Homo sapiens: one gene and its partner. The protein of the gene in region 1 binds, or shares a complex with, the protein of each later gene. Each region holds a gene or a part of one and is shown in the gene's direction. Other genes may lie near its edges.

Region 1 (15,218 bases):
AACTACAGGCGCCTGCCACCGCGTCAGGCTAATTTTTGTATTTTTTAGTAGAGACGGGGTTTCACCGTGTTAGCCAGGGTGGTCTCGATCTCCTGACCTTGTGATCCACCCGCCTCGGCCTCCCAAAGTTCTGGGATTACAGGCGTGAGCCACCGCACCCGGCCTGTTTTTTTGTTTTTGAGACAGGGACTTGCTCTGTCTCCCAGGCTGGAGTGCATTGAAACAATCTTGGCTCACTGCAACCTATGCTTCCCAGGTTCAAGAGATCCTCCCACCTCAGCCTCCCGAATAGCTGGGACTGCAAGCGTGTGCCACCACGCTTTGCTAATTTTTGTATTTTTTGTAGAGACAGGGTTTCACCATGTTGCCCAGGCTGGTCTCAACTCCTGAGGTCAAGCTCTCTGCCCACCTTGGCCTGCCAAAATGCTGGGATTACAGGCATGAGCCGCTGTGCCCAGCCAATTGGTGTTTTATTTATTGTATCGAATGAGAGCAAGAGAAAAATATTGATGATGACTAATGTTTTGAGCCTAGTGACCGGAAGTTGGTACGATTAATCGTTTGGGGAGGGAAGGGTAACAAGTTTGGGTTTCTACAGATTGAACTTGAGGTGCTTGAGAGATAATCAGGTGCATTCATCTCCTAGTGATCTTATTTAGGTTTATAGCTTTAAATAGCCTTTGTACACTAATAGCTGTCCAGTTTATATTTCTAGAGAAACCTCTTCCTTGAACTACAGGCTAATATTTCAACTATATACTATATATCTCCACTTGGATACCTAATATTCTGATCCACCTTCTCCCTGGATTTCTCCCTCAGCCTTCCCATCTTGGTAAATGGCAACTGAGTGATTTCTCTCTTGCTGTCACACTTGACATTTAGTTCATCATTAAATCCCATCGGTGCTAGCTTCAAGATATCCAGATTTTGATATTTCTCAAAATCTTTCCACCTTCCATTTTGATCTATGCCACCACTATCTCATGCCTGGATGATTGCTATAGTGCTGGTCTTTGCTAATCCTGCCTATTCTTTCTCCTTTTGTCCTTGCCTCCCTTTGTTTGGTTTGTTCTCTCAGCAACCAGAATAATACTTTAAAAACATTAGGCCAGGTGCAGTGGCTCACACCTGTAATCCCAGCATTTTGGGATTACATTAAGTGGAAGGATTGCTTGAGCCCAGGAGTTTGAGACCATCCTGAGCAACATAGCAAGACTCCATCTCTACAAAAATGAAAAATAAAAAGAAATAAATAGGTGGGCATAGTGGCACACGCTTTTATGCTTTTGGTCCCAGCTACTTGGGAGGCTGAGGTGGGAAGATGCTTGAGGCCGGGAGGTTAAGACAATCCTGAGCAACATAGTGAGACACCATCTCTACCCAAAAAAAAAAAAAAAAAAAATTGGTGGGCGCGGTGGTGTGTGCCTTTGGTCTCAGCTACTCTGGAGATTGAGGTGGAAGGATTGCTGGGGCCCAGTAGGTTGAGGTTACAGTGAGTAGCAATTGAGCTGCTGCATTCCAGCCTGGGTGACAGAGTGAGACCTTGTCTCAAAAAAGAAATTTAAAAAAATGATAAAAAGGCTGCATGCGGTGGCTCATGCCTGTAATCCATCCCAGCACTTTGGGAGGCTGAGGCAGGTAGATCACCTGAGGTCAGGAGTTCCAGACCAGCCTGACCAATGTGGTGAAACTGCCTCATCTACTAAAGATACGAAACTGGCTGGGCGTGGTAGTATAGGCCTGTAATCCCAGCTGCTTGGGAGGCTGAGGTAGGAGGATTGCTTGAACCTGGGAGGCAGAGGTTGCAGTGAGCTGAGATGGTGCTATTGCATTCCAGCCTGGGCAACAAGAGTGCGACTCTGTCTCAAAAAAAATAAATAAAATAAAATAAAAATAATTAGCTGAGTGGCCGGGCGCAGTGGCCCAAGCCTGTAATCCCAGCACTTTGGGAGGCTGAGGCAGGTGGATCACGAGGTCAGGAGATCGAGACCATCCTGGCTAACATGGTGAAACCCCATCTCTTCTAAAAATGCAAAAAAAATTTAGCCTGGCGTAATGGCGGACGCCTATAGTCCTAGCTACTCGGGAGGCTGAGGCAGGAGAATGGTGTGAACCCGGGAGGTGGAGCTTGCAGTGAGCTGAGATTGTGCCACTGCACTCCAGCCTAGGCAACAGAGCCAGACTCTTTCTCAAAAAAAAAAAATAATAATAATAATTAGCTAAGTGTGGTGACGCATGCCTGAAGTTCCGGCTTCTTGGGAGGCTGAAGTGGGAGGATTGCTTGAGCCTCAGAGAGTTGAAGTTGCAGTGAACTGTGAGCACATCACTGCACTCTATCCTGGATAATAGAGTGAGGCCTGTTTCTAAAAATAAAAATAAAAACATTAATGAGGTTGTGTCACTCCTCTGCTTAAAGTCTTCCAGTAGATTTTCATCTTGGTGTAAAAGACAGAGTCCTTATATAATGGCCAGTAAGGCCTTCCAGGTTTGGCTTCCCTGCTGTTTTTCTGACCTCGTCTTATGGCACGCTGTGTCACTCTTTCAACACTAGCCACAACTGGCATCCTTGCTGTTCCTTAAACTCACCAGTCAAGCTTCCTCTTTAGGGACTTTGCACTTGTGCCTTTTGCGTGGAAAATTCCCTGTATATCTACATGGCTCCTTTATTTCCTCCAAGCCTCTGTAACAAATGTCATATTTATATTGTATATAAACATACTATATACAGTGTTTGTTTCTTCACTTGTCTGCCGTCTTTTCCTTTACCGGAGTGTAAGCTGCCTGGAGCTCAAAGGCAGGAGCTTGGTCTGTTTTGTTCACTGTCCTTGCCTCTCTTTCAAGACAGATTTTCCACCTCTACATGTGTCTGTGCTGAAGCAGAAGGGTTCATTTTTTCCCTCCTAATTTTAGAAAAATTCATAAAAAGTTCTTTGAGTGTTAAATTTGTCTGCTGAAATTATTTTTAGAAAAAATGTAATAAAATGTAATAGAAGCTAATGGTGTTTGCTGAACTTAATCTTTGACTTATTGTTCTAGCCACTATCGAAAACGATCGGCATCCCGGGGTCGCTCTGGAAGTCGGTCTAGAAGTCGCTCACCCTCAGACAAAAGAAGTAAACGTGGAGATGACAGACGGTCTAGAAGTAGAGATAGAGATAGGAGGAGAGAGAGGTCTCGTAGCAGGGATAAAAGAAGATCTCGGTCAAGGGACAGGAAGCGTCTGAGGTAAGACATTAATTAATTTCCAAAAGACGAGTGATAAATTGGGCCTTCTCGGCTATAGCAGGCTTCTTGAAAAGTATGTTTTCAACTGGAGTTTGGTGGCCCAATTGCAGGCCCTTTTCTTTATCCCCTACTTGTTTGATTAGACCCAGAAGGATGTGCCTACAAAGACTCTATCAAACAGTGTTTTTTTTTTTTTTTAATCTTTTTTGAGACAGAGCCTCACTCTGTTGCTCAGACTGGAGTGCAGTGGTATCATCTCTGCTCACTGCAACCTCCACCTCCTGGGTTCAAGCGATTCTCATGCCTAAGCCTGCCAAGTAGCTGGGATTTCAGATGTGCACCACCACACCTGTCTAATTTTTGTGTCTTTAAAAGAGACGGTGTTTTGCCATGTTGGCCAGGCTGCTCTCGATCTCCTGGCCTCATGTGATCCTCCCACCTTGGCCTCCCAAAGTGCTGGGATTACATGTGTGAGCCACCGTGTCCGACCATCAAACAGTGTTTTTAGTTTGGAAACTTTAGGCTGTATTTCCTGTAACCCAAAGACATCCCTTGAAGCCCTCTGAGGGACATACAAAATGAAGTAAAAAGTAAAGTAATAAGTTATATTCAAGAGGGTTCTATTCCAATTCTGCTCCAGGAGAGCTGACCAAGGTGTTAATTTTCTTTCCTTTTTTTTTTGCCACCCTTGTTGAAATTTGTAAAATTTCCTTCCTCTCTCCCTCCTTCCCTCCCTCCCTTCCTCCATCTCTCTCTTCCTTCCTCCCTATCTCCTTCCCTTCCACTCTCTCTCCCTTCCTCCCTCACTCTTTCTCTCTTTCTCTTTCTTTCTTCATTTTGCTAAACAGTGTGTTTAGAGCAGCCTCTAAAGCAGGCAGAAAAAGGAAACAAAGCAGACCCTCTCCAAGCCTCTTAAACTATTTTAATGAGCTGTCATAGATTTAAACTAAAGAGCGCCTTAATCTTTTTTTTTTTTTTAATTTATTTTTTTTTTGAGACAGAGTCTCACTCTGTCACCCAGGCTGGAGTGCAGTGGCACGATCTAGGCTCACTGGAACCTCTGCCTCCCGGGTTCAAGTGATTCTCATGCCTCAGCCTCTTGAGTAACTGGGATTACAGGCATGCTCCACAAAGCCTGGATAATTTTTGTATTTTTAATAGTGACAAAGTTGGCCAGGTATGGTGGCTCATGCCTGTAATCCCAGCACTTTGGGAGGCCAAGGTGGGTGAATCACGAGGTCAGGAGTTTGAGACCAGCCTGGCCAACATGGTGAAACCCCGTCTCTACTAAAAAAAAAAAAAAAAAAAAAATTAGCCAGGTGTGGTGGTGCATGCCTGTAAACCCAGCTGCTCGGGAAGCTGAGGCAGGAGACTTGCTTGAACCTGGGAGGTGGAGGTTGTAGTGAGCCGACATGGTGCCACTGTACTCCAGCCTGGGCGACAGATCAGGACTCCATCTCAAAACAGAAAAAAAGAAAATAATCTTCTGTGCACACCACACCCAGCCAATTAAAAAAAGCTTTTCATAGAGATGGGGGTCTTAACTGTGTTGCTAGTGGCCTCCCAAAGGGTTGGGACTACAGGTATGAGATACCATACCTTGCCCAGTTTCTCATTAAAATAGGAAAGGAAGACAAGATTGTGTTGTGAGTGGATCATAGAAAGAATTTAACTTTATCCTTTTCAGACATTGGAGTACATTGTTGTTACGTAGGATTCAGGGAAAATATTCACCCGTGACAATGTGGATAGCATTTTCACATTTTGTGGTCCTAGGAACAATTTCACACAATTAATTCAAGTACTTAAGTGAAAATGGTTATTTAACATTTGGTCTTTGACTTTTGGGTGTGAAAGTAGAATCACAAGATTTTAGAGCAAGAGGGATTTTAAAGATGTCTAGTGAAGTCTCCATATTTTATAGATGATGAAACTGAGACCCAGAAAGTTGGAGATCTGACCTTCATCATGTCATTAGTTACCAGGAGTAGCAGGATAGAAATTCTTGCCTCTTCATCTTCAGATTAGTGATCTTTTAGTAGACCCATTATGCCCATCCTTATACTTAGGTTTAGGCTATCTGAAACTAGATATTCTATCTTAGACCATCGATTTTCAATCGATGTTAATTACAGACTTATTATGGTTTTTTCACAAACATCTTTATGAAATTAGTATTCTCTGGCCTGGCATGGTGGCTCACGCCTGTAATCCCAGCACTTTGGGAGGCTGAGGCAGGCAGATCACCTGCGGTTGGGAGTTCGAGACCAGCCTGACCAACATGGAGAAACCCCATCTGTAAAAATACAAAATTGGCTGGGCATGGTGGTGCATGCCTGTAATCCCAGCTACTCAGGAGGCTGAGGCAAGAGAATCGCTTTAACCCAGGAGATGGAGGTTGTGGTGAGCTGAGATTGCGCCATTGCACTCCAGCCTGGGCAACAAGAGCAAAACTCTGTCTCCAAAAAAAAAAAAAAAATTAGCCGGGCATGGTGATGCACATCTGTAATCCCAGCTGCTGGGGAGGCTGAGGCAGGAGAATCACTTGAACCCAGAAGGCAGAGGTTGCAGTGAGCTGCAATTGTGCCACTGCACTCCAGCCTGGGTGACAGGTGTGAGACTTTGTCTTTAAAAAAATGAAAGAAATAAATTAGTATTCTCATTTTTTTCGTTGAGCACTTATAAGACTTGGCTTTACTTCATTGAGACCTCCACCTTTAATAATGGTAGTGATTAAGATTCTTTCAATGTGGGACAGAATCCCCTGATCTGAAATAGTAGCTCCATTTGGTCATAGAATAAATGAAAAGTGTCCCCCTTTCAGACGTTCCAGAAGTAGAGAGAGAGACAGAAGCCGAGAGCGAAGAAGATCTCGAAGTAGAGACAGGAGACGCTCAAGGAGTAGAAGCCGGGGCCGGCGATCCCGATCCTCCAGTCCTGGAAATAAAAGCAAGAAAACTGAGAATAGGTAATGTTATCATTGGGCTGCATCTATAGTGCAGACTGGGGACTGCTTCCCTTCTCTGCGCCTTTTTTTTTTTTCCCTGTAAGTTTGTATTTATAGAGAATTAACTGCATTTGGCTCCTACCATGAACTGTTGGCAGTGTTTTATTTTAATTGGCTATAATGTTTATAATTCAACTGGAAAATAATAGATTCTGTCAGTTTTAACATTCAATACATTGTATTCTTACTTAATACATAACTGTCAATCAGAAATGTATTTTATAGACATCTTTGTAGAAACTCTGTCATTTTCTTTTCAGGCAGGGTCTCACTCTGTTGCCCAGGCTGGAGTGAAGTGGCAAGAACATAGCTCACTAACCTTAAACTTGTAGACTCAAGCAATCCTCTCACCTAGGCCTCCAAAAGTCCTGGGATTATATGAAGAGGCAGACATAATATCCCAGCTAATTTTTATGTTTTTAGTGGAGATGGGGTTTTGGCATGTTTGCCAGGCTGGTCTCGAACTCCTGACCTCAAGTGATCTGCCCACCTCGGCTTCCCAAAGTGCTGGGATTACAGGCCTGAGCCACCGCGCCCAGCCAAGACTTGTCTTAAAAGTTAAGAAATTAGGCCAGGCGCGGTGGCTGACGCCTGTAATCCTTGCACTTTGGGAGGCCAAGGTGGGCGGATCACCTGAGGTTGGGAGTTGGCGACCAGCCTGACCATTGTGGATAAACCCCGTCTCTACTAAAAATACAAAATTAGCTGGGCGTGGTGGCGTATGCCTGTAATCCCAGCTACTCTGGAGGCTGAGGCCGGAGAATCGCTTGAACCCAGGAGGCAGAGGTTGCGGTGAGGTGAGATCATGCCGTTGCACTCCAGCCTGGGCAACAAGAGTGAAACTCCTTCTCAAAAAAAAAAAACAAAAAAAAGTTAACAGAAATTAAGACAATGTGCAATTTGTTTAGCAGTGGACAGACAGATTAGTGAACCATGTAAAGAGCCCAGAAAGGCATCCATACACATGGTAATTTGATAGATGACAGAGGTGATGATGTAATAAGTGAAGATTTTTTTTTTTTTTTTAACAGCCAAAGTCTCGTTCTGTTGCCCTGGCTGGAATGCAGTGGTGCAATCTCGGCTCACTGCAACCTTCGCCTCCCGGGTTCAAGTAATTCTCTTGCCTCAGCCTCCCGAGTAGCTGGGACTGCAGGTGTGTGCCAACATGCCCAGCTAATTTTTTGTATTTTTTAGTAGAGATGGGGTTTCACCGTGTTAGCCAGAATGGTCTCGATCTCCTGATCTCGTGATCCACCCGCCTCGGCCTCCCAAAGTGCTGGGATTAAAGGCGTGAGCCACCGTGCCTGGCCAGAAAAATTTTTAAATTGCTCTAGGGATATCTAGTATCCTTTTATGAAATAAGACTGCCTACCTTATTCTGTGTACAAAAAGCAATTCCAAGCAAAGACCAAATTAGATGGCAAAATTCTAAACCTTTTAGAAGTTTGTGCCAGAGAGTATCTTCTTCTTCACCTCTAGGTATCTTACATCAAATCTGGAAGGATTTCTAAACTACTTTAAAAAGCACCAATTATAAAGGAGAAAAAAGGTTGACTAATTTGATTACATTAAAATTAAGAAATTTTATTCATTATGAGATGCCGTAAGTTGGGGTGCGTAAACAAGTTGGGTTTATTCCAAGAATGGCAGGTTATTTTAACATTAAAAAATCATTAGAAGTCTGGGTGAAGTGGCTCACGCCTGTAATCCTAGCACTTTGGGAGGCCGAGGTGGATGGATCACGAGGTCAGGAGTTTGAGACCAGTCTGACCAACATGGTGAAACCTCGTCTTTACTAAAAGTAAAAAATTAGTCAGGTGTGGTGGCACACACCTGTGATCCCAGCTACTCGGGAGGCTGAGGCAGGAGAATCACTTGAAGCCGGGAGGTGGAGGTTGCAGTGAGCCGAGATTGCGCCACTGCACTCCAGCCTGGCCGACAGAGAGAGACTCCGTCTCAAAAAAATCCCCTAAAATCATTAGAACATTAGAACATTCGAAATGCATGTCCCTTGGGATTTTAAACGTTATTACATATATAAATTATCTTGCAGAATATTAATATATTGGTCTGTTTCTTCATTTATCACATTTTAACTATCCTACCTATAAACAAACTATATTGTTTGTATGTAGTATGTTCAGTTTTTCTTGGGTTGAATTTCCAAATATTTAGTAATGCTTCCCATTAGTGTCATGGGATTAATTTTTTTCGTTATATTTTCAAGGTTTTTTTTTTTTTTTTTTTTTTGAGGCAGAATCTTGCTCTGTCGTCAGGCTGGAATGTAGTTGTGCAATATCAGCTCATTGCAACCTCTGACTCCCTGGTTCAGGCTATTCTCCTGCCTCAGCCTCCTGAATAGCTGAGATTACAGGCACGTGCCACCATACCCAGCTGATTTTTGTATTTTTTAGTAGAGACGGGGTTTGTTTTTTTTGTTTGTTTTTTTTTTTTTTTTGAGGTGAAGTTTTGCTCTTGTCTCCCAGGCTGGTGGGCAATGGTGCAATCTCGGCTCACTGCAACCTCCGCCTCCCGAGTTCAAGTGATTCTCCTGCCTCGGCCTCCCACCCCTGAGTAGCTGGGATTACAGGCGCCTGCCACCAAGCCCGGCTAATTTTTGTACTTTTAGTAGAGACAGGGTTTCACCATGTTGGTCAGGCTGGTCTAGAACTCCTAACCTCATGTGATCCACCTGCCTCGGCCTCACAGAGTGCTGGGATTACAGGCGTGAGCCACCGCGCCCGGCCGAGTTGGGGTTTCACCATATTGGCCAGGATGGTCTCGATCTCCTGACCTCGTGATCTGCCTGCCTTGGCCTCTCAAAGTGCTGAGATTAGAGGCATGAGCCACCATGCCCAGCCTCCAGGTGTTTGTTAATGGAATATGAAAACACAGTTGACTCTTAGAAGTTTATTTCTTACCTAAATATTGGAATACAAGTCTAATAAGTGTACTTATGTATTTTTTGTTTTAATTTAATAGAGACGAGGTCTCACTGTATTATCCTGGCTGGTCTCGAACTCCTGGGCTCAAGTGATCTTCCTGCCTTGGCCTCCCAAAATACTGAGCTTACAGGCATGAGCCACTATGCCTGACCAAATTTTTTTTTTTTTTTTTTTTTTTTAAAAAGAGACAGGGTCTCACTTTGTCACCCAAGCTTGAGTGCAGTGATGGGATCATAGCTGACTGCAGCCTCGAACTACTGGGCTCAAGTGATCGTCTTGTTTCTGCCTCCTCAGTAGGTAGGACTGCAGGTGCACACCACCATACCCAGCTAATTCTTAGTATATTTTGGAAAGATTGGATCTTGTTATGTTCCCCTGGCTGATCTCTTTAACTCCTGTTTTCAATTGATCCTCCTGCCTTGGCTTCCCAAAGTGCTGGGTATATAAGTGTGAGGCACCTTACCCCACCTGTAAAAGTATTTTAAGGCCGGGCGAGGTGGCTCATGCCTATAATCCCAGCACATTGAGAGGCTGAGGTGGGCAGATCACCTGAGGTTAGAAGTTCAGGACCAGCCTGGCCAACATGGTGAAAACCTGTCTCTACTAAAAATACAAAAATTATATGAGTGTGGTGGCTGGCACCTGTAATCTCAGCTATTCGGGAGTCTGTGACAGGAGAATCGCTTGAACCCGGGAGGTGGAGGTTGCAGTGAGCTGAGATCGCACCATTTCACTCCACTCCAGTCTGGGCGACAGAGTGAGACACTGTCTCAAAAAAAAAAAAAAAAGTATTTAAAAATGAATGTTTCTAAGTACAAATGAATGACATTTCTCTTGTCTCTTTTATTTTTTTGGTAGATCTAGGTCCAAAGAGAAAACTGATGGTGGGGAAAGTTCTAAAGAGAAGAAAAAAGACAAAGATGACAAGGAGGATGAAAAAGAAAAAGATGCTGGCGTATGTTTATTAACTTAAAAATAATTTTCTTTCTTTCTTTTTGTCTTTCTTTCTTTCTTTTCTTTCTTTCCCTCTTTCTTTCTTTCTTTCTCTTTCTTTCTTTCTTTTCTGTCTGTCTTTCTTTCTGTCTTTCTTTCTGTCTGTCTCTGTTGCCCAGGCTGGAGTGCAGTGGCACATTCTCGGCTCCTGAGTTCAAGCAATTCTCCTGCCTCAGCCTCCCAAGTAGTTGGGACTATAGGCATGCGCCACCATGCCCAGCTAATTTTTGTATTTTTAGTAGAGATGGGGTTTCACTGTGTTGGCCAGGCTGGTCTTGAACTCCTGACCTTGTGATCCCCCTGCCTCGGACCCCCAAAGTGCTGAGATTACAGGTGTGAGCCACCGTGCCTGGCCATCAAACTTGTTTCTATGGGCCAGGCACGGTGGCTCACGCCTGTAATCCCAGCACTTTGGGAGGCCGAGGCGGGTGGATCATGAGGTCAGGAGATCAAAGCTATCCTGGCTAACATGGTGAAACCCTGTCTCTACTAAAAATACAAAAAAAAAAAAAAGATTAGCTAGGCGTGGTGGCAGGCGCCTGTAGTCCCAGCTACTTGGGAGGCTAAGCCAGGAGAATGGTGTGAACCCGGGAGGCAGAGCTTGCAGTGAGCCGAGATTGGGCCACTGTACTCCAGCCTGGGTGACAGAGCAAGACTCTGTCTCAAAAATCAAAACAAACTTGTTTCTATGCCAACAAATTTTTTTCTTTTTAATGCTGTAAGCTTTATTTTAAAATAACCAGATGTGAAAGATAAAAAAGGAAGATTAAATAATATTTACCCCTGTGGGAAAATTTTCTAAAAGAAGTTGCACATCTATACGCAATATCTGTTTTTACATACAAAGTGCAGTCTTACCATATAAACATTATCAATTGCCTTCCAAAAAATTTGTATAAATTTCGACTTAAGGCTGGGCACAGTGGCTCGTGCCTGTAATCTCACCACTTTGGGAGGCCAAGGCAGGTGGATCATCTGAGGTCAGGAGTTCGAGACCAGCCTGACCAACATGGTAAAACCCCGTCACTACTAAAAATACAAAAATTAGCCAGGCGTGATGGCGCATGCCTGTAATCCCAGCTACTTGGGAGACTGAGGCAGGAGAATCACTTGAACCTGGGAGGCAGAGGTTGCAGTGAGCCAAAAATCACACCATTGCACTCCAGCCTGGGCAACAAGAGCGAAACTCTGTCTCAAATGTGAAGGCCAGGCATGGTGGCTCGTGCCTGTAATCTCAGCAGTTCGGGAGGCCAAGGTGGGTAGATCACGAGGTCAAGAGATTGAGATCATCTTGGCCACCATGGTGAAACCCTGTCTCTACTAAAAATACAAAAATTAGCTGGGTGTGGTTGTATGTGCCTGTAATCCCAGCTACTCGGGAGGCTGAGATAGGAGAATGGCTTGAACCCCGGACTTGGAGATTGCAGTGAGCTGAGATCCCGCCAATGCACTCCAGCCTGGTGACTGCGAGACTCTGTCTGGAAAAAAAAAATGTAGACTTAAGAATTTAGACATGAGGCCAGGTGCTGTGGCTCATGCCTGTAATCCCAGGAATTTGGGAGTTCAAGCAGTTCCCCTGCCTCAGCCTCCTGAGTAGCTGGGATTACAGGTGCATGCCACCACGCCCAGCTAATTTTTTGGTATTTTTCGTAGAAATGGGGTTTCCCCCTGTTGGCCAGACTGGTCTTGAACTCCTGACCTCAGGCAATCTGCCTGCCTCTGCCTCCCAAAGCACTGGAATTACAAGCATGAGCCACCGTATCTGGCCTATTCATTTTTTTGAGACGGAGTTCTGCTCTTGTTGCTGAGGCCGGAGTACAATGGCGTGATCTCAGCTCGCTGCAACCTCTGCCTCCTGAGTCGAAGCAATTCTCCTGCTTCAGCCTCCTGAAGGAGGAACTACAGGAATGGGGAACCATGCCCAGCTAATTTTTGTGTTTTTAGTAGAGACAGGGTTTCACCATGTTGGCCAGGGTGGTTTCCAACTCCTGACCTCAAGGGATCCTCCAGCCTCAGCTTCCCACAGTGCTGGGATTACAGGTGTAAGCCACCATGCCTGGCCATAAACTTGTATTTTTTTAATAACACAGAGTCTCCCTTTGTTGCTGAGGCTGATCTCAACCTCCTGTGCTCAAGGGATCCTCTAGCCTCAGCTTCCCAGGTAGCTGGGACCACAGACATGTACCATGTGCCTGGCCATAAAATTTCTTTATCATGTTGATGTCGTTTATTTTCTAACTTGTAATAGAAAATTGCTTTTCATAGAGGCAATTTTGGAGGCGTTTAGGGGATTAAAATTGAGAATAACTGGGAAACTTTGCTTGCTAATTACTTTAGTTTCTGTTGTTAGGAAGAAATAAAGTTTATGTGTGCATAATGCTTGTAAGTAAAATGAGATTGATTTATAGTGTTTGAAATCTATCTTTTGGCTTTCTTATTTGAAGATGCTTTTTTTGTGATTTCATTTTGGTAATATATTTGTGTGTATATTTATAAAGGTATGTGATCTAAGTCTACCCTGAGGGGTTTGTATATATGCCTTTTTTCCCCTTCTTTATACTTTGAAGAACTTACTGGAATGTCACTTGGAGCAAAATTATTAAATTTGGTTTTGCTTTTTATTTTCCCCCATCTCTTTCTTTCTTTTATTCCCCCAAGAACTTTGACCAGAATAAGCTGGAAGAAGAAATGAGAAAGCGAAAAGAAAGAGTAGAAAAATGGCGAGAAGAGCAACGTAAAAAGGCTATGGAAAACATAGGAGAACTGAAAAAGGAAATCGAAGAGATGAAACAAGGGAAAAAGTGGAGTTTAGAGGACGATGATGGTATATTTTTTAGCCTAATAGCCTGTATAACACCTCATGTAGAATATTATATGAATAATATTTCATAAGGGGTTTTTAATCTTTTTTATTGTTGAAAACTATGCATAATATGCTGTTTACCATTTTCATCATTTTCAGGTTTCAATTCAGTGATAAATACATTTGCAGTGTTGTGCAGTCGTTACCACTGTCTGTTTCCATGACTTTTTCGTCATTCCATACAGAAACTCTGCACCTTTTAAATAACTCTATGACGCCTTTTCTCGCTACTTCTTGTGACCTTTGCTCTATTTTCTGTCTCTGAATTTGTTTAGTCTAGCTACCTCACATAAGTGGAATCATAATACATATTTGTCTTTTTGTGTCTGGCTTATTTCACTTAGCATAATGTCTTCAAGGTGCATGTATGTTGTAGCATGTTGGAATTTCCTTTCTTTATATGGCTGAATAATATTTCACTGTATATATATGCCAAGTTTTGTTTGTTCATTCACCTGCCATTGGATAATTTGGTTGTTTCCACCCTTTTGTTATCGTGAGTAATGCTCCTGTGACCATTGGTGTATAAATATCTGTTTGAGTCTCTGTATTGAGTTCTGTGAACTATATACCCAGAAGTGGAATTGAGATTGTAAAAGCTCCTTTTAATATTTATGTTGTAATTTGAAATATAGAATTGTGTTTAGTAAGCATCACTGATTTTACTTTAGAATGAATCATTGAGTGTTATTGGGCATAGCCAGTAAATAGTTCTTTAATATATTATACCAATGTGAACGTTAGTAAGGAGAGTAAATTAAGGGCATGCTTTCAAGTGCCTCCTCTGATTTTTCTTTTCTTTTTCATGTTTTTGGAGATAGAGTTTCATTCTCTTGCCTAGGCTGGAGTGCAGTGGCACAGTCATAGTTCACTGCAGCCTCGACGTCCTGGGCTCAAGTGATTTTTCTGCCTCAGCTTCCAGAGTAGCCACCATGCCTGGCTAATTTTGTCTTTTTCTTTTTTCTTTTTTGACAGAGTCTTGCTCTGTCACCCAGGCGGCACTGCAGTCTCCGCCTCCCAGGTTCAAGCTATTCTCTTGCGCCTCAGCTTTTCAAGTAGTCAGGATTACAGGCACCTGCCACCATGCCTGGATAATTTTTGTATTTTTAGTACAAAAATATGTTGGCCAGGCCGGTCTTGAACTCCTGACCTCAGGTGATCCTCCCACTTTGGCCTCCCATAGTGCTGGGATTACAGGCGTGAGCCACCATGCCCAGCTAATTTTGTCATTTTTTGAAGAGCCAGGGTCTCGATATGTTACCCAGCTAGTCTTGAGCTCCTGGGGTCAAGAGAGCCTGCTGCTTTGACCTTTCTCAGTGTTGGGATTACAGGCAGGAGCCACTGTGCCTGGCTGCTGATATTTCATAATTTAGGATGGAAACATTTCCCTTCACATCTGATTTTGACTTTCGAGATTTTAGTAAAGTAGGAGATTGTAGAATTTTATAGGAAAATGGGATTTTGGTCCATTGTCTGTGAAAGTTCCAAAGAATGGTTTAAATAGATTCTATCTATAAGTAGTCATGATGTCTTTTTTTTTTCGCTCTGTTGCCTACGCTTGAGTGCAGTGCCGTGATCTCGGCTCACTGCAACCTCCACCTCCCAGGTTCAAGAAATTCTCTGCCTCAGCCTCCTGAGTAGCTGGGATTACAGGTGTACACCACCACGCCCAGCTAATTTTTTTGTATTTTTAGTAGAGACGAGGTTTCACCACACTGGCCAGGTTGGTGTCAAACTCCTAACCTTGTGATCCGCCCGCCTTGGCCTATTTTTAGTAGAGATGGGGTTTCACTATGTTGGCCAGGCTAGTCTCAAACGCCTGACCTCGTGATCCACCTGCCTCGGCCTCCCAAAGCAGTGGGATTACAAGTGTGAGCCATTACGCCCAGCCAAGTAGTCGTGATGTCTTAATTCTAGACAATCTAATCTTTTTTACATAACTGAGATATGCTATCTTCTGTGATTGAAAGGTAATTGAAAGAAAAATACAGTTGACCCTTGAACAACTTGGTAGCTAAGCACACCAACCCCCACACAGTGAAATATCCATATGTAACTTTTTACTCCCCAGAAACTAAGCATTACCTGCTTACTGTTCACCAATAACATGAACAGTTGAATAACACATACTTTGTATGCTTTATGTATTGAATACTGTATTATTTTAATATGGTAAGCGGGA
Region 2 (15,218 bases), on another chromosome or scaffold:
CCAGGCTGGAGTGCAGTGGTGCAGTCTCAACTCACTGCAACCTCTGCCTCCTGGGTTCAAGTGATTCTCCTGCCTCAGCCTCCCGAGTAGCTGGGACAACAGGCGTGCGCCACCACGCCCAGGTAATTTTTGTATTTTTAGTAGAGACGTGGTTTCACCGTGTTGGCCAGGCTGGTCTCAGTCTCTTGACTTAATGATCCCCCGACCTGGGCCTCCCAAAGTGCTGGGATTACAGGCGTGAGCCACGGCACCAGCCTACTTTGGTTAGACTTTCACTATGTCAGCTCTGCAGATTCATCTCATTACATTTCAAGGGCTTTGATTACCTTTGAGTATTAGGTTGAAAGCTTCTCTGTGCTTGATTGAACATTGTGATGATGTTGATTGGGTCATGTCAGATTTAGACAGTGTTGTGTTTAAGATAAATGTTTAATGGCTCTTAGCAGTGTTCATGCCTCCCCTTTTCCCCTGATACTTTAAAAACAGAATATACAGAAAAGGGGAGTTGGGTGAAGAATCACCATATTCTCATTACCAGAGTAGTGTCTACCAGCTGTTTTCACATTTTTCTGTTTCCTTCTGTCCTTGGAATCCTTTTTTTAGATCCTTGTAATACTAGTAAAGATATTCCACTCTGTGTTGTAAGCATTTTTCCATTTTGCTCCATGGTCTTCATAATGCCCTGTGGTCCTTTATTAAGGGGATGCACCATGTAGAGGTGAAAGGCTTTCCTTGACTTGGCCACCATTTCTGTATTTTCCTTAGAGGAGGAGGTTTCCAACATTTCTTTTTTAGAGACAGAGTCTCGTTCTGACACGCAGGCAGGAGTGCAGTGGCATGATAACAGCTCACTGCAGCCTTGAACTCCTGGGCTCAAGTTATCCTCCCACCTCAGCTTCCTGAGTAGCTAGGACTACAGGTGCCTGCCACCACACCCAGCTAATTTTTTTTTTATTTTTTTTATTTTTTTTAGTTTTTTTGTATAGATGGGGTCTTTCTGTGTTGCTCAGGTTGGTCTTGAACTCCTGGCCTCAAGTGATCCTCATGTCTCAGCCACCACAAGGTGGCTGGGATTACAGGCAGTGACCACCGCACCTGGCCTGTTCCCAACATTTCATTTTGGCAAATTAAGCTGTGGGGAAATCTCTGAGCATTTTCTTTCCCTTTTAGATCGTTTCCTTAGAAGAAAATTCTGTGTGGCTCATTATTGGCTAAAAGAGCATCCTTAAAAGATTTCTTAAACATTTTGCCAAGTAGCTTTCCAATAATTTTGTGCCATCCTCTGCTGCTAAAGAAATAAGAGGATATCCAAGGTCCCTTTAAATATATATGACCAGGTTAGGTGGCTCACGCCTGTAATCCCAGCACTTTGGGAGGCCAGGGTGGGAGGATCGCTTGAACCCAGGACTTGGACACCAGTGTAGGCAATATAGTGAGACCCCTGTCTCTACAAAAAATAAAAAAATTAGCTGGGCATGGTGGCGCATATCTGTATTTCTAGCCACTTGGGAGGATCACTTGAGCCTGAGAGGTCAAGGGTATGATCATGCCAGCGTACTCCAGCCTGGGGCGATAGAGCAAGACCCTATCTCAAAAAAAAAAAAAAAAAGAAAGAAAAAAATCCAAAACCATGCACATCCCTAGATTGATTTTTAGCTATGGTGATTGCTTTTGTAGGCATTTCTAAAATCTGTGAGCCAGTGTGGTGGCTTACACCTGTAATCCCAGCACTTTGGGAAACTGAGGTGGGCAGATCACCTGAGGTCAGGAGTTCAAGACCAGCCTGGCCAGCATAGTGAAACCTCGTCTCTACTAAAAATACAAAAAATTAGCCAGGTGTGGTGGCGGGCGCCTGTAGTCCCAGCTACTTGGGAGGCTGAGGCAGAAGAATCGTTTGAACCCGGGAGGCAGAGGTTGCAGTGAGCCAAGATTGTGCCACTGCACTCCCACCTGGGTGACGGAGCGAGACTCCGCCTCAAAAGTAAATAAATAAATAAAATCTGTGAACTTATCGTTTACATTGCAACAAAGAGACCAATATCCGAGTTAAAGCAGGCATGCAGAACTCTGTGCTTCACTTCTCCTGGGTTCACGTATATTTATGGAGCATGCAGTAGAAATGCACAACTGAGCGGTTTTCCAAAAGTTTTTTCGCTAGGTTAGGCCTTTTCATTTCCTGCATGTTCCTGTCAAGAAACTGAAGTGGAAATTACCCTTAAAAAGTCCCACCAGCTGGGTTGAGTCAGAATCATGTCTTTTTCTGTTGAAATCTATTCCTTCTGGTGGAGAGTATGATTCTAAAATTAACGTTAAGCTAATTTAAAGCAACTGAATAGCTTGGAATGAACATGCCAAGCCTTCTCATTGTTTTATTTTTCAGATTGTTCCCAGATGGGGTAAAGTTATGGCTTAGGCAGTGGTACAGGAGACAACCAGGGCCCCTTTTTCCAGGAGCCCTTTGTCTGCCCGAGGCATTTGCTGGGTATAGTGGCCTAGTTTAGCAGGATTTAAGTGTGCATTCACCTTCATTCTTATGTGTGGTTTGCATTATTTAAGGAGTAGGGAGAATTTTTTTTCCAAAGCATGAGGTTCCAGTTAGACTAATATACTGTCAAATTGAGACCTCATGGTGTTAGTTACACGGCAGGGTATGACCACGACTTGCTGAGGAGCCAGCCTGGGTGTCGATCACTAGTGTGGCACATAATTGCTGTGGTGGTTGATCTGGGGCACAGCACTGCCTGTACCCTGTCTCCTGCCATCTGTCTTAAAAAAAATTTAAAAAATTTTTGTTTTCAGAGGTGAAATTTCATTTTGTTGCCCAGGCTTGGGTATGATCTTCTGGGCTCAAGTGATCCTCTCGCCTCAGCCTCCTGAGTAGCTGGGACTACAAGTGTGCGCCACTGTGCCGGGCTCCCACCCCCTCTTAAACTCACAGGCCAGGGATATGAAAGTCTGAAGAGTGGAGCTGGCTAGCTGGCACCAGATGCCGGGGCCATGCCTTGGTGTGTTTGGGGCAGTTCTAAGTACAAGGTTCTCGCCAGAGGAGCAATGGAAGGCCCCACAGACAATGTTTATGGAACAACCCCTCCTAGCCCCTTGCATTTGCAGGCCACTGTACGATTTGAAAAGACTTTGAGGGCTGGGTTCAGTGGCTCACGCCTATAATCCTATCACTTTGGGAGGCCAAGGCGCTTAAGCGCAGGAGTTTGAGACCAGCCTGAGCAACATGGTGAAACCCCGTCTCTACAAAATGTAAAAAAAAAATTAGCCGAGCATGGTGGTATATGCCTGTAGTCCCAGCTACTCAGGAGGCTGAGGTGGGAGGATCCCTTGAGCCCAGGAGGTGGAGGTTGCAGTGAGCTGAGATTGTACCACTGCACTCCAGCCTGGGTGACAGAGTGAGACCCTGTCTATAAAACAAAAACACTTTGGCATCTCCTCAATAATGTTTCAAGGTAGAAAGGGAAACTGGTGTTAGCTGCATTTTACACATGGGGAAATGGAAGCAAAGAGTAGTTTGGTAACTTGCTGTGGGTCAGAGTGAGTCAGCAGTGAACCTGAGACTTGAACGTGTTCATATCTTGTGTCTTTAAGGTCCGTGTACTTTCTGACTGACACAGGTGTTGTATATAAGTGTGGCACTTTGAATATTACTGTTGGGACATTTTAAAAATCAGGGTTCCCTAAACATCATTATAGGGACATTTTTTCATTATCCTGAGGTTTTGAAGGCTTGCTGGGGACATGGGGCATATCTGGGGAACCATCCCAGGTACAGACAGTGGTTGGAGACCTCCCTGCTGATCTTACCACACCCCTGTCATCTGAAGGTGCCTTATACAGCTGTACGAGTCTGGGTTTTTGCTGAGGATGTTTCCTGTGTGGGCCTCACCAGTATAATGGGGGTGGTTTTAGGGAGTACTTGGACAAGGCGTTAAACCAACTATTTGTTTTTTGTTTGTTTGTTTGTTTCTTAAAGACAGGGTCTTGCTCTGTTTTCCAGGCTGGAATACGGTGACACGATTCTAGCCCACTGCAGCCTCAGACTCCTGGGCACAAGTGATCCTCCCACCTCAGCCTCCTGAGTAGCTGGGACTAGAGGCACACACCACCATGCCCAGTTAATTTATTTTTATATTTTTTTGTAGAGTTAGGGTCTTTTCTTGTTGCCCAGGCTCAAATCAACTAAATTTTCATGTCTTTCAGTCTTTCTTGTTACTCAGAGGACAAAGTCTAGGTTTGGTGCTCATGTACCTTTTACACCTCTCCAGCACTTGCTACCCCTTTGAACTAAGAGAATTAGTCTCAGCAAACTTCCAGCTAAACTTTGACAGTATTACTTTGTTTTCATTATGTTCACTTTTGACTACCTTTTGTTGGTAAAGGCATACTGATTTTTTTTTATTTGAAGTAGTAATATGTATTCTCCATCTTAAATAGATTTTTTTTAAAGTAAATTTTATTAAAAGAAATGAGCGATAGCCTAGATGGTTTTGGAAATGGCAGAACTGGAAAAGGAGCTAAGGAATGACTGGGTTCAGGGAAACCCTGTGGCAGAGGTGGCCTGGTTCAAGCTGAATGAGGCAGATGGCACTGATCGCCAATGCCAGGAAGCTAGAGGAGGACGTCTGCTGAGGGATGGGCTGGTTTGAGCAGTGGGTGGTGGCAAGAAGGACGTTCCAATGGGCAGTGTTCTAGATCACAGCAGGCACAAGGGAGTGGTGTTTATTCTTGTTGTTTTTTCTTCCTCCAGAAACGGGCCTGAATTTGAAGCTAGGATCCGACAGAACGAGATCAACAACCCCAAGTTCAACTTTCTGAACCCCAATGACCCTTACCATGCCTACTACCGCCACAAGGTCAGCGAGTTCAAGGAAGGGAAGGCTCAGGAGCCGTCCGCCGCCATCCCCAAGGTCATGCAGCAGCAGCAGCAGACCACCCAGCAGCAGCTGCCCCAGAAGGTTTGGAGCCCAGTGCCCCCTTCACTTACGCAGGGCTTGAGAGGGAAACAGGGATAGGGAGGGAGTACACAATTAACTCCAAATCTCACAACCACCCAGGGAGAGAAGTGAGGTCGTTATCCCCATCTCTCAGAGGCAGACCGAGGCCCAGACAGCAAAGTACTGATGTTAGTTGGCATTTCCCGAGCACTGCTTGTCAAGCTCTGTGCTTGGTACTTCAGGAGTCTTGTCTCATTGACTCCTCACAGAGGCTGTATGAGGAACCTGAGAGTTGGGGGACGTGTGATTTATTCAAGGCCTTGCTCAGGGTGTGAGGGCAGTGCCGTGATGTGAGGGCAGCACTTCCTACTTGGCTGTGCTGAAGGATGCAGTGTGGCCTGTGGGCTCCTCCTTGTGCCATCCCTTCCCTTCTATCTCTTCTTCCCAGGACCCCTCCATCCTGGCCTCCCCTGATACCACCTTCCCTGTGCTGAGGCCCAGCACTAGGGACTATTAGGATTATGAATGAAGAGAGAGGCTGACATGTTTTTCCTCCTGTCCAGACCTGCCTTCTGCACTCCTGAACCATGGTGGAAAAGGCAGTCCCTCCTTTTGCAGTGGGCTATAAAGGTTGAAGTCAGGTTCTAAGACCTTGCGTTGCAATGAGGCCTAGGACCTCAGGCTACCTCAGTTTCTTCATCTGTAAAGAGGATTCACAGTACCTGTGCTACCTCATCGTTCATGCGGAGGTCATGGAAACACTTTGTACAGTGGGGTTTTCTGCACACATGTAGGCCTTCTGCACATCCATCCCTCTTGGATGGGATTTAATAAGTCCTATTCTTGTTGGATCTTCTGTCACCCAGTTTTGGCCCTCAATTTCAAGGCAGGAGCAGAGATACAGAGGGGAATGGTTCTCACTCAGCCATTCAGGAAGTTGAGGCCATAGTTGGCTGGGAAGTCAATGCTCTTGTGATTTAGAATTCTCTCACACCAAGTGCTAGTGGTGTGTGCATAATTAACAGAAGTCTAGAGGTTCACAGCATCCTGCTGAGGGGTGCATGCCCATGTCCCCTCCCCTCCCCTCCCCTGGAGCCTGTTCACCCCTGTGCCTCTCGCCTCATACTCCCTTTGCATCTTAGGTCCAAGCCCAAGTAATCCAAGAGACCATCGTGCCCAAAGAGCCTCCTCCTGAGTTTGAGTTCATTGCTGATCCTCCCTCTATCTCAGCCTTCGACTTGGATGTGGTGAAGCTGACGGCTCAGTTTGTGGCCAGGAATGGGCGCCAGTTTCTGACCCAGCTGATGCAGAAAGAGCAGCGCAACTACCAGTTTGACTTTCTCCGCCCACAGCACAGCCTCTTCAACTACTTCACGAAGCTAGTGGAACAGTACACCAAGGTGCCTGGGCAGGATGGGGCTGGGGTCCTGGGCCCAGGAAAGGAAAACATCTTATGCTTGGAAGCACTGTGTCCACTCACTGTCTACAAGGACATCGCTTCTCCATGGGGCCTCTGAGCAAATGTTTTGAATCCCAGTTTAATGTAAAACCTTGATTTCTATTCAGTTATTTCTTTAAGTGCAACACAGACTGCCGGTTTCTAAAGAGAAGGGAAATACATGCTTGCTAACTACCATTAGGCGATTGCCTGCTATGTGACAAGGCCACGTGGTGCTTGCTGCTTTTAAGTGCATTTCCGTTTTCAGTTGCCTAGTAAGGCCCTGAGAAGAAGCCAACCTTTAAGAGTTGCCTCCTTTTACCTAACTTAGTCCTCACAAGAAGCCATGAGGTGTTTTCCCCCCATGTTTGAGAAGCAGAAACAGGCTCAGAAAGGTGAAGTCACGTACTCAAGGTCTGTCAGCTAGTAAGTACTATGCTGAGATTTAAACCACATTTGACCCTAAAACTTTGGTTCTTCAGCTTATAAAGTGCCTTAAATTGGAAACAGCATTTAAATAGGTGTTGAGAGACACTTTGATGTCATGTAAGTCAGTATAACTAACATCACTAAGAAATTATGTATGCAGCATCTTCTCATTTAATCTCCGGTAGCCTATAAGGTAGCCACTATTGCTATGTTCACTTTACAGAAGAGAAAATTGAGGTGCAGTGAAGTTAGCATGGCCAGGGTCACATAGCTAGGAGGTGGCAGGGCTGGGGCTTGAGCTCTGGCATTTTTACTCCAGACCCTAAGAACTCAATTATCATTTGACAGAGCTGCAATCAAGAATCAGGACAAGTCAGTTCTGGCATTTAAAATAATCAGATTATTAATTTATTGCAAAGTGCACTGACAGCTTTGCCTGTGGCACATTTTTCTTGCTACACATGTCATGGAGGTTGTTTTCCTTCCCTTTACAGTGGGATGGTCTGTACATCTCTTCTTCATATCCAGAAACAACACCTCAAAGATCTGACTTGAAAGGACTTGAGAATTTCCTAACTCTACTCACTTTTAAGTACATAATTAGAATTTTAACAATGTGTGTGTTTAGAAAATGACCAAATCCAGAAGCTAGTATGGTAGCTAAAATAACAGTCATTCAAGGCCCAAGGCCCAAGGGTTTCTATAAATATGCAATATCAATTTTAAATGAACCCTGGATTAATTTCTCCCAGTGGACTGCTTCCAGGGTTAAAGGTCCCAGATCACTTTTTATTCTGTTACTTTCCTGTTTTTTCTTCAGAACTTGGGTATTGGCATTTACCACTGTAACTTGAGGTTCCTGCTGTCTGTTCTAGCCATGGAAGACTGAGCAGATAGATTCTTGGGGTAGAGGTGGAAGGAGGATTGGGATAGGGCCGAGCCACTTTGCCAGTGGCAGTAGAAGCTGTTGGGGCTGTTTAGAACAAAGGCAGCATTTGTTCTCTCAGTAAGTATACATTGTCAGACATTATTCAGGGGGCTGGAGATGTAATCGTGAACAAAAGAGAAATCCCTGTCTTCATGGAGTTTCTAGTCTAGTGAGGAGGAGTCAAGTGCATTGTCAGTGTCTGTTACATGGTGCTAAATACTACAGAGAGAAAGCAGGGAGCAGAAATAGAGGGAGGTGGGGCAAGTACGCTGCGGTTCTGAATAGGATAGTCAGGGGGGACCTGCGTAGTGTTTTTGAAAGGATGAGAGCAGGTCAGTGTCATGAAAGCAGCCGTCTCATACTGACCGTGTTCTGGGTAATCGGCTAGTGCTTTGCATGCTTTCCTGCTAATCCTCGAAGCCACCTTTTTAAGTTCATGGTGCCAACTTTGAGTGGTGGTGCCATTATTTTGGAGAAGGAAATCAAGTTACTGAGGTTAAGTAACTTGCCCTAAGTCCCACAGCCAAGTGGAGCTGGGATTGGGACACAGAATCCCATGCTTCCTCATCTCCTGTGCTTTATCACAGGCCCAGGAAGGCTGCCTCTTTGTACTGCGTTGTAAAGCACTGACAGTTGCTTTAACTCTTCTGTATTTCAGATCTTGATTCCACCCAAAGGTTTATTTTCAAAGCTCAAGAAAGAGGCTGAAAACCCCCGAGAAGTTTTGGATCAGGTAAACTGAATAGCATTTCTTGCAACCAGTTACTGGTGGTTGGTTCTGTTTTATGTCTGAAAACAGTCTCTGAGGCAGGACCTTGTTATGTTCCAGTCATGGGAATGGTGGGAGAAAAGGCTTTGTTGGCTACAAAGGCCAAAGAAACCTGGAGTCCGGATGCTTCCCAACATACCACAACTTTCTGCTTTGCTCTCAGCCTCAATATATCTCCCTCTTTTCCACTCTAGCTAGAAGACAGAAGGCCAGCTCCCAAGCAGATCAGAGGGTGGAATTTTCATTCTGTCCCAACTCTGCACCTGGGTGGAACCAGGTGCAAATGCCATAGTTTGGAACCATACTTCCATTCTGTTCCGAAGGAGGCGCTGACTTTGATGAAAGCCCTGGAGGTGGTAGCCTCATCAGGAGCAGACCCTGCTTCAGCGTAGCACCAAGCTGTTTCCCATCTCTGCAGGTGTGTTACCGAGTGGAATGGGCCAAATTCCAGGAACGTGAGAGGAAGAAGGAAGAAGAGGAGAAGGAGAAGGAGCGGGTGGCCTATGCTCAGATCGACTGGCATGATTTTGTGGTGGTGGAAACAGTGGACTTCCAACCCAATGAGCAAGGTAGGTCTGTGAGGAGTGACTCCAGATGGGGAGCCAGGAACTCAGACTTCCCGGGAAACCTGGTGCAGGTGTTCCCAGAGAGCAGTAGAATCTCTCAGAGGGCTTTATCAGTGCTGTCTCCTCCCTGCTCCCAAAAGACTTCAGTTCTACCACTTTGCCCAACTTAGATTCAATACGTACTTGCCAGACCCTAGATGGGCCTCTGGAGATAGCTGGAGAGAAAACAGACATGGCCCCAGCCCTTGGGGAGCTCAGACAGGGCAAATAGGTGGGTCTTTGATAAGGAATACCTTTGCCTCTGGCTCACCCTCTAGGGAACTTCCCTCCCCCCACCACGCCAGAGGAGCTGGGGGCCCGAATCCTCATTCAGGAGCGCTATGAAAAGTTTGGGGAGAGTGAGGAAGTTGAGATGGAGGTCGAGTCTGATGAGGAGGATGACAAACAGGAGAAGGCGGAGGAGCCTCCTTCCCAGCTGGACCAGGACACCCAAGTACAAGATATGGATGAGGTAAGCTGCTGGGCAGGCCTGCAGGATGACCTTTTCCCCTGAAGCCCCAGGAGGTCGAAGTGCTCTCCACCAGTCAGATCCAGCTCCCCTGTGAGCCTTGAAAGGAGGCGTGGGTCCTGAACAAGGCCATACAGCTGCCCAAGTCCAGGCAGCACAGAGCCTCTTTCCAGCTCCGGCAACAAAGATTCATTCATAGGCAAGGATCTAAAAGCTGTGCTGACCTGTTCTGTGGCCGCCTCCCTGGCCCGGACAGCCTGCTCTCACTGCCTCGTGCCAGCCCTCAGGGAACTCACTGCATTACCCTGTTCTGTTTTGAGCTCTCAGCTGGGCTCCAAGCTCCCAGAGCTTTTCTAAATGTAGCCCACGCTTCCTTTCAGGCATCCCTACCCCCTTCAAGCCAGGCCCTCTAAGCAGGCATGGAGTCTCCAGAACCAGACTGTTCTCCCCCACTCGGAAATAATTTGTGCACAGCCTGAGAAGAAAGGGCCCCTGTCTGTGGGAAATGACTTTTTCTCTCCCTCCCAGCATTGCTGTGTGAGCAGCTACCATTGATTGGCGACTCGCCGCCCCCACCCCTCGCCCCCTTGGCACTGTCCCCCCCCGGCATGTTAAGTGCCCTTGGCCTCTTGGGACTGCCTGGTGCCAGCTGCTGGAAATGCCTGGGAGGAGTGCTAGGACCGTGGCCTCAGCACTCCCATTCATGCTGTGAGGAAGCAGCTTGGCCTGCTGCCGGCTGGCCTCAGCTGCCCTGGGAGGCTTAGCACATGGACGCTGGCTGGCAGAGGCCAAGGCTCCTTGCCACCCAGAGACCTGCCAGGCTCAGCTACAGGGAGGTGGCCTCAGCCCCTCTCTGAGTCCTGCCATTGCTTTGCTTTTCAGGGTTCAGATGATGAAGAAGAAGGGCAGAAAGTGCCCCCACCCCCAGAGACACCCATGCCTCCACCTCTGCCCCCAACTCCAGACCAAGTCATTGTCCGCAAGGATTATGATCCCAAAGGTAGGGAGGGCCTGCTTCCCAACCCTCGGGCTGCCCAGGAAGTCCTGTGTGCCCTCATGTGTTCCTCACACCCGTCTTTCTAGGAGGGCTTGAGGTGCAGCTTATTGTAAAAGCATTGCAAGCCCGTCTGTTACAGGTTTCATGGTGGGAACAGGGCCCAGTCATCTCTGGTGCCCTAGTGCCTTTCACAGTGCCAGGTACAAGAGTGGCACTGAATAGATGCCTTGATGAATGATGCACGCATGAAATACCACCCTCTTAACTCAGGTGGCTGCCCACCAGTGTTCTTACTGAAACATCTGTTTCCTTTTAGCCTCCAAGCCCTTGCCTCCAGCCCCTGCTCCAGATGAGTATCTTGTGTCCCCCATTACTGGGGAGAAGATCCCCGCCAGCAAAATGCAGGAACACATGCGCATTGGACTTCTTGACCCTCGCTGGCTGGAGCAGCGGGATCGCTCCATCCGTGAGAAGCAGAGCGATGATGAGGTGTACGCACCAGGTGAGGTGGGGGTTCCAGGAGAGCCCATGGTAGTCTCCGAATTACAGCCATCTTCTTCTAAGCAAACATAGAAAGCAACAATTGAGGTCAACAAAAGCTTTTGAGGAGAGTTGCACTCTATGATATTGCAAGAGAACTCCCCACTTTCCAGAAGAACTCCCCATAGAAATTCCCCAAAGGCAGACACTGAAGGAGATGCCATGTGCCTGTTGACATCCCAGAGCAAGCTCTGGCTTTAGCTGGAAGGGCTTCCTGTGGCTGTTTAGAAGGAGAGCATTGATGGCTGGAGTACCATGAGCTCTTTGGAATGGGGCAGGAACTGTGCCACAGGTGGGAGACTGGGCTTCTAGTTTTGACTCTGCCACTTACACCATGTGGCCCTTTCCACACAGTTGCCCTCTCTAACTCACCATCTTATTTATTTATGTGTTTTATTTATGAATGACGGAGTTTCACTCTGTCTCCCAGGCTGGAGTGCAGTGGCTCCATGTTGGCTACTGCAACTTCCGCCTCTCACGTTCAAGCAGTTCTTCTGCCTCAGCCTCCCAAGTAGCTGGGATTACAGGCACGCACCACCACACCCGGCTAATTTTTGTATTTTCAGTAGAGACGGGGTTTCGCTATGTTGGCCATGCTGGTCTCGAACTCCTGACCTCAGATGTGATCCTCCTGCCTTGGCCCCCCAAAGTGCTGGGATTACAAGCATGAGCCACTGTGCCTGGCCTACCGTTCTTTTCTAAGTCAGAGGGGTTGCCCAAGCACTGGGTTTATAGGCTTAGATCGGGCAGCTTTCCCCGAGCCCAGAGGACAAGAGTTGGGGCCCTGAGTCACCCTCATCCCATGGAACCAGCCTCCTCCCTGCACACCAGAAAAGCTGCTCTCTTGTCAGGACACCTGGTTTATTTTCTCTTTCTATCCTCTGCCTCTGTTTTGTGACTGTACAGGTCTGGATATTGAGAGCAGCTTGAAGCAGTTGGCTGAGCGGCGTACTGACATCTTCGGTGTAGAGGAAACAGCCATTGGTAAGAAGATCGGTGAGGAGGAGATCCAGAAGCCAGAGGAAAAGGTGCGGCTAAAGTGGAACCTAGTGCCTTCTCTGCCCCCCGTCTTCCATACTTGGTCTTAGTTCCAGAAGCATTGTGGCTTTGCTTTCACTTGCAGGTGACCTGGGATGGCCACTCAGGCAGCATGGCCCGGACCCAGCAGGCTGCCCAGGCCAACATCACCCTCCAGGAGCAGATTGAGGCCATTCACAAGGCCAAAGGCCTGGTGCCAGAGGATGACACTAAAGAGAAGATTGGCCCCAGCAAGCCCAATGAAATCCCTCAACAGCCACCGCCACCATCTTCAGCCACCAACATCCCCAGCTCGGCTCCACCCATCACTTCAGTGCCCCGACCACCCACAGTAAGCCAGCATCTACCCTGGAACTGACTTTTTTAGAGCTTCATTCTTGAGGTCGGACACTGTTGGCTGAGAAGTGCAGCTGCCTTTTAGTGGGGCCTGAGTGTTGGGTGGGTCAGTTTGAAAGAGAAAGAGCCCTTTAAATGCAAGTGGGAACCTCTCTCTTGATCTGTTTGTGGAGGAGGGTTGGAACAGGGAGGGAGGTAAGTGGCAAATATGAGAAACCAGTTGGCGTCAGAGAAGGGCTGCAGGGCTTATTGGGTCTTTGAGGACTGTTGGCTTGTCTCCAGGAGAGACTTAGTCGAGGTCTCGGCCTCTTTTTTTTTTTTTTTTGAGATGAAGTTTTGCTCTTGTCGCCCAGGCTGGAGTGCAATGGCATGATCTTGGCTCACCGCAACCTCCGCCTCCCGAGTTCAAGTGATTCTCGTGCCTCAGCCTCCCAAGTAGCTGGGATTACAGGGATGCGCCACCATGCCCAGCTAATTTTGTATTTTTAGTAGAGATGAGGTTTCTCCGTGTTGGTCAGGCTGGTCTCGAACTCCCGACCTCCGGTGATCTGCCTGCCTTAGCTTCCCAAAGTGCTGAGATTACAGGCATGAGCCACTGTGCCTGGCCAAGGTCTCAGCCTCTTTAGTGACTCTTTCAGTGTTTGCCAAAGTAGCAGGTCGAGTTTGACCCGCCAAGTCCCAAGTAGAGAGAGTGTCATCCTCGGGCTCTCAGCAGCTCAGTTCCTATTGGACGCCCAGTGTAGGCCACAGTTTCTCAGTCCCAGGGGGCCAGGACGTAGTTGTCTAACCTCCATCCTCAGAGCTGCAGGCAGCCAGTTGCCAACTGTGTGTGACCTTGGAGTCCAACTTTGGCTTCCTGTAATCTGTGGGTCTCTTTCCTGCACAGATGCCACCTCCAGTTCGTACTACAGTTGTCTCCGCAGTACCCGTCATGCCCCGGCCCCCAATGGCATCTGTGGTCCGGCTGCCCCCAGGCTCAGTGATCGCCCCCATGCCGCCCATCATCCACGCGCCCAGAATCAACGTGGTGCCCATGCCTCCCTCGGCCCCTCCTATTATGGCCCCCCGCCCACCCCCCATGATTGTGCCAACAGGTCAGTATCTCTTGCATCATTTTCCAGGCCATTAGTTCAGGGACCACGGGCCAAGTACTGTCAGCAGAGCAGTGGCTGATGCTAGTGCCAGCTGTTCCAGCAGGGTATCCAGCCCAGAGGAGAGCCCTGGCTTCCCATTGAAAGATCCGCAACCCTAGAGCTGGGAGCCACCGTTCCTGGTAGAAATGAGAGGCTGAAATGGTGTAGCCAGTGTCTGTGCATTCAGGGATCAGGTCCCCAACAGGCTCAGAGGCCTGAGAAATGCTTGTTGCTTGGCACTAGCTCCATCCATCAGTCCTGCCCCTCCTGCAGTCCTCTGCTGTCCAATCTGGGCAGCCTCCCAGGTCCCCTTGCCAGGGAACCTGCTGGCTGCCAGACTTAGCAGGGAACAGCACTTGACACCTCTGACTAGAGGAAACCTTTGCAACCTTCCCTCTCAACTTCTCATCAGCCCTGAGTCCTGGGCCCCTTCTGCCCTCTCATGGGGCTGCTTATTCTTGTCTTTGCAGCCTTTGTGCCTGCTCCACCTGTGGCACCTGTCCCAGCTCCAGCCCCAATGCCCCCTGTGCATCCCCCACCTCCCATGGAAGATGAGCCCACCTCCAAAAAACTGAAGACAGAGGACAGCCTCATGCCAGAGGAGGAGTTCCTGCGCAGAAACAAGGTATGTAATCCCAGAATGCTGCTGAAGTTTCTAGCTGGAGGGTTCAGTCCCGCCCCTGTCGTACACTTGCGAAACTGACCCTATTTCACTCCCAGTCTTGGCTTCTGGGGCCTAGGTCAGCTGTTGGAGGCATCTAAGGGCTTCTGAGCACACAGTGAATGTGGGGCCAACAATTGGAGGAGCAGAGAGCATTGGTGGTGATGGTGATGGTAGTGGTGGCAGAGGTGGTGACTGTGGTGGTCCCTCTGGTGTAGACTTACAGAGGCCAACAGGGAGACCCAGCAGCACGGGCAGCACAACTCACGTGTGAGAGGGACCCTAGACACCTGGAGGAAATTGTGTGTGGTGTTTTAAAATTTACTGTGGCCTTCCTCCCCAGCTCTAGCCCTTAGGAGGTCTGCCTGTTGGGTGGGATCCTGTTGGGGTCCTGGAATAAGGGGAGGTGGGGACCTTGTCACTGCTAATCACTAGGGAAGCTGTCAGGCTGCAGTAAGGAGACAGAAACAGCCCCGGCCTCTGCTCCCCCAATGTATTTGACCAAATTGTTTCGTTTTGTTTTTGCAACCTCTGCCTCCCGGGTTCAAGTGATTGTTATGCCTCAACCTCCGGAGTAGCTGGGATTACAGGTGTGCACCACACACCCAGCTAATTTTTGTATTTTTAGTATTTTAGTAGAGATGGGGTTTCGCCACGTTGGCCAGGCTTGTCTTGAACTCCTGGCCGTAAGTGATCCACCACGCTGGCCTCCCAAAGTGCTGGGATTACAGGTGTGAGCCACTGCACCCGCTCTGTTTGTTTTTTAATAATAGTTCCCATTTCTTAAACGCTTAAGTACCAGGATAGAGCTAAGCACTTTACAGACACTTCCCCTCAATACTCAAAACAGTCATGAACCCTGTCTGGTGGATAATGACATTGAGGCTCAGACAAACCTTGTTAGCTGGGAAGCTGAGTTGGGAATCCAGGTC

What was found.
Region 2: DDX46 (region 1) and SF3A1 share a complex: the UniProt entries of both Homo sapiens proteins name them as parts of the 17S U2 SnRNP complex.

Annotation. Positions count from the first base shown.
Region 1 is NC_000005.10:134,760,865-134,776,082, forward strand, and holds part of DDX46 (probable ATP-dependent RNA helicase DDX46), read left to right. Parts: intron 1-3,039; coding exon 3,040-3,228; intron 3,229-6,052; coding exon 6,053-6,196; intron 6,197-10,038; coding exon 10,039-10,135; intron 10,136-12,831; coding exon 12,832-12,997; intron 12,998-15,218. UniProt on the Homo sapiens protein: Component of the 17S U2 SnRNP complex of the spliceosome, a large ribonucleoprotein complex that removes introns from transcribed pre-mRNAs.
Region 2 is NC_000022.11:30,336,058-30,351,275, reverse strand, and holds part of SF3A1 (splicing factor 3A subunit 1), read left to right. Parts: intron 1-4,756; coding exon 4,757-4,964; intron 4,965-6,085; coding exon 6,086-6,343; intron 6,344-8,396; coding exon 8,397-8,471; intron 8,472-8,925; coding exon 8,926-9,076; intron 9,077-9,390; coding exon 9,391-9,584; intron 9,585-10,463; coding exon 10,464-10,581; intron 10,582-10,894; coding exon 10,895-11,080; intron 11,081-12,024; coding exon 12,025-12,146; intron 12,147-12,241; coding exon 12,242-12,487; intron 12,488-13,378; coding exon 13,379-13,586; intron 13,587-14,095; coding exon 14,096-14,250; intron 14,251-15,218. UniProt on the Homo sapiens protein: Component of the 17S U2 SnRNP complex of the spliceosome, a large ribonucleoprotein complex that removes introns from transcribed pre-mRNAs.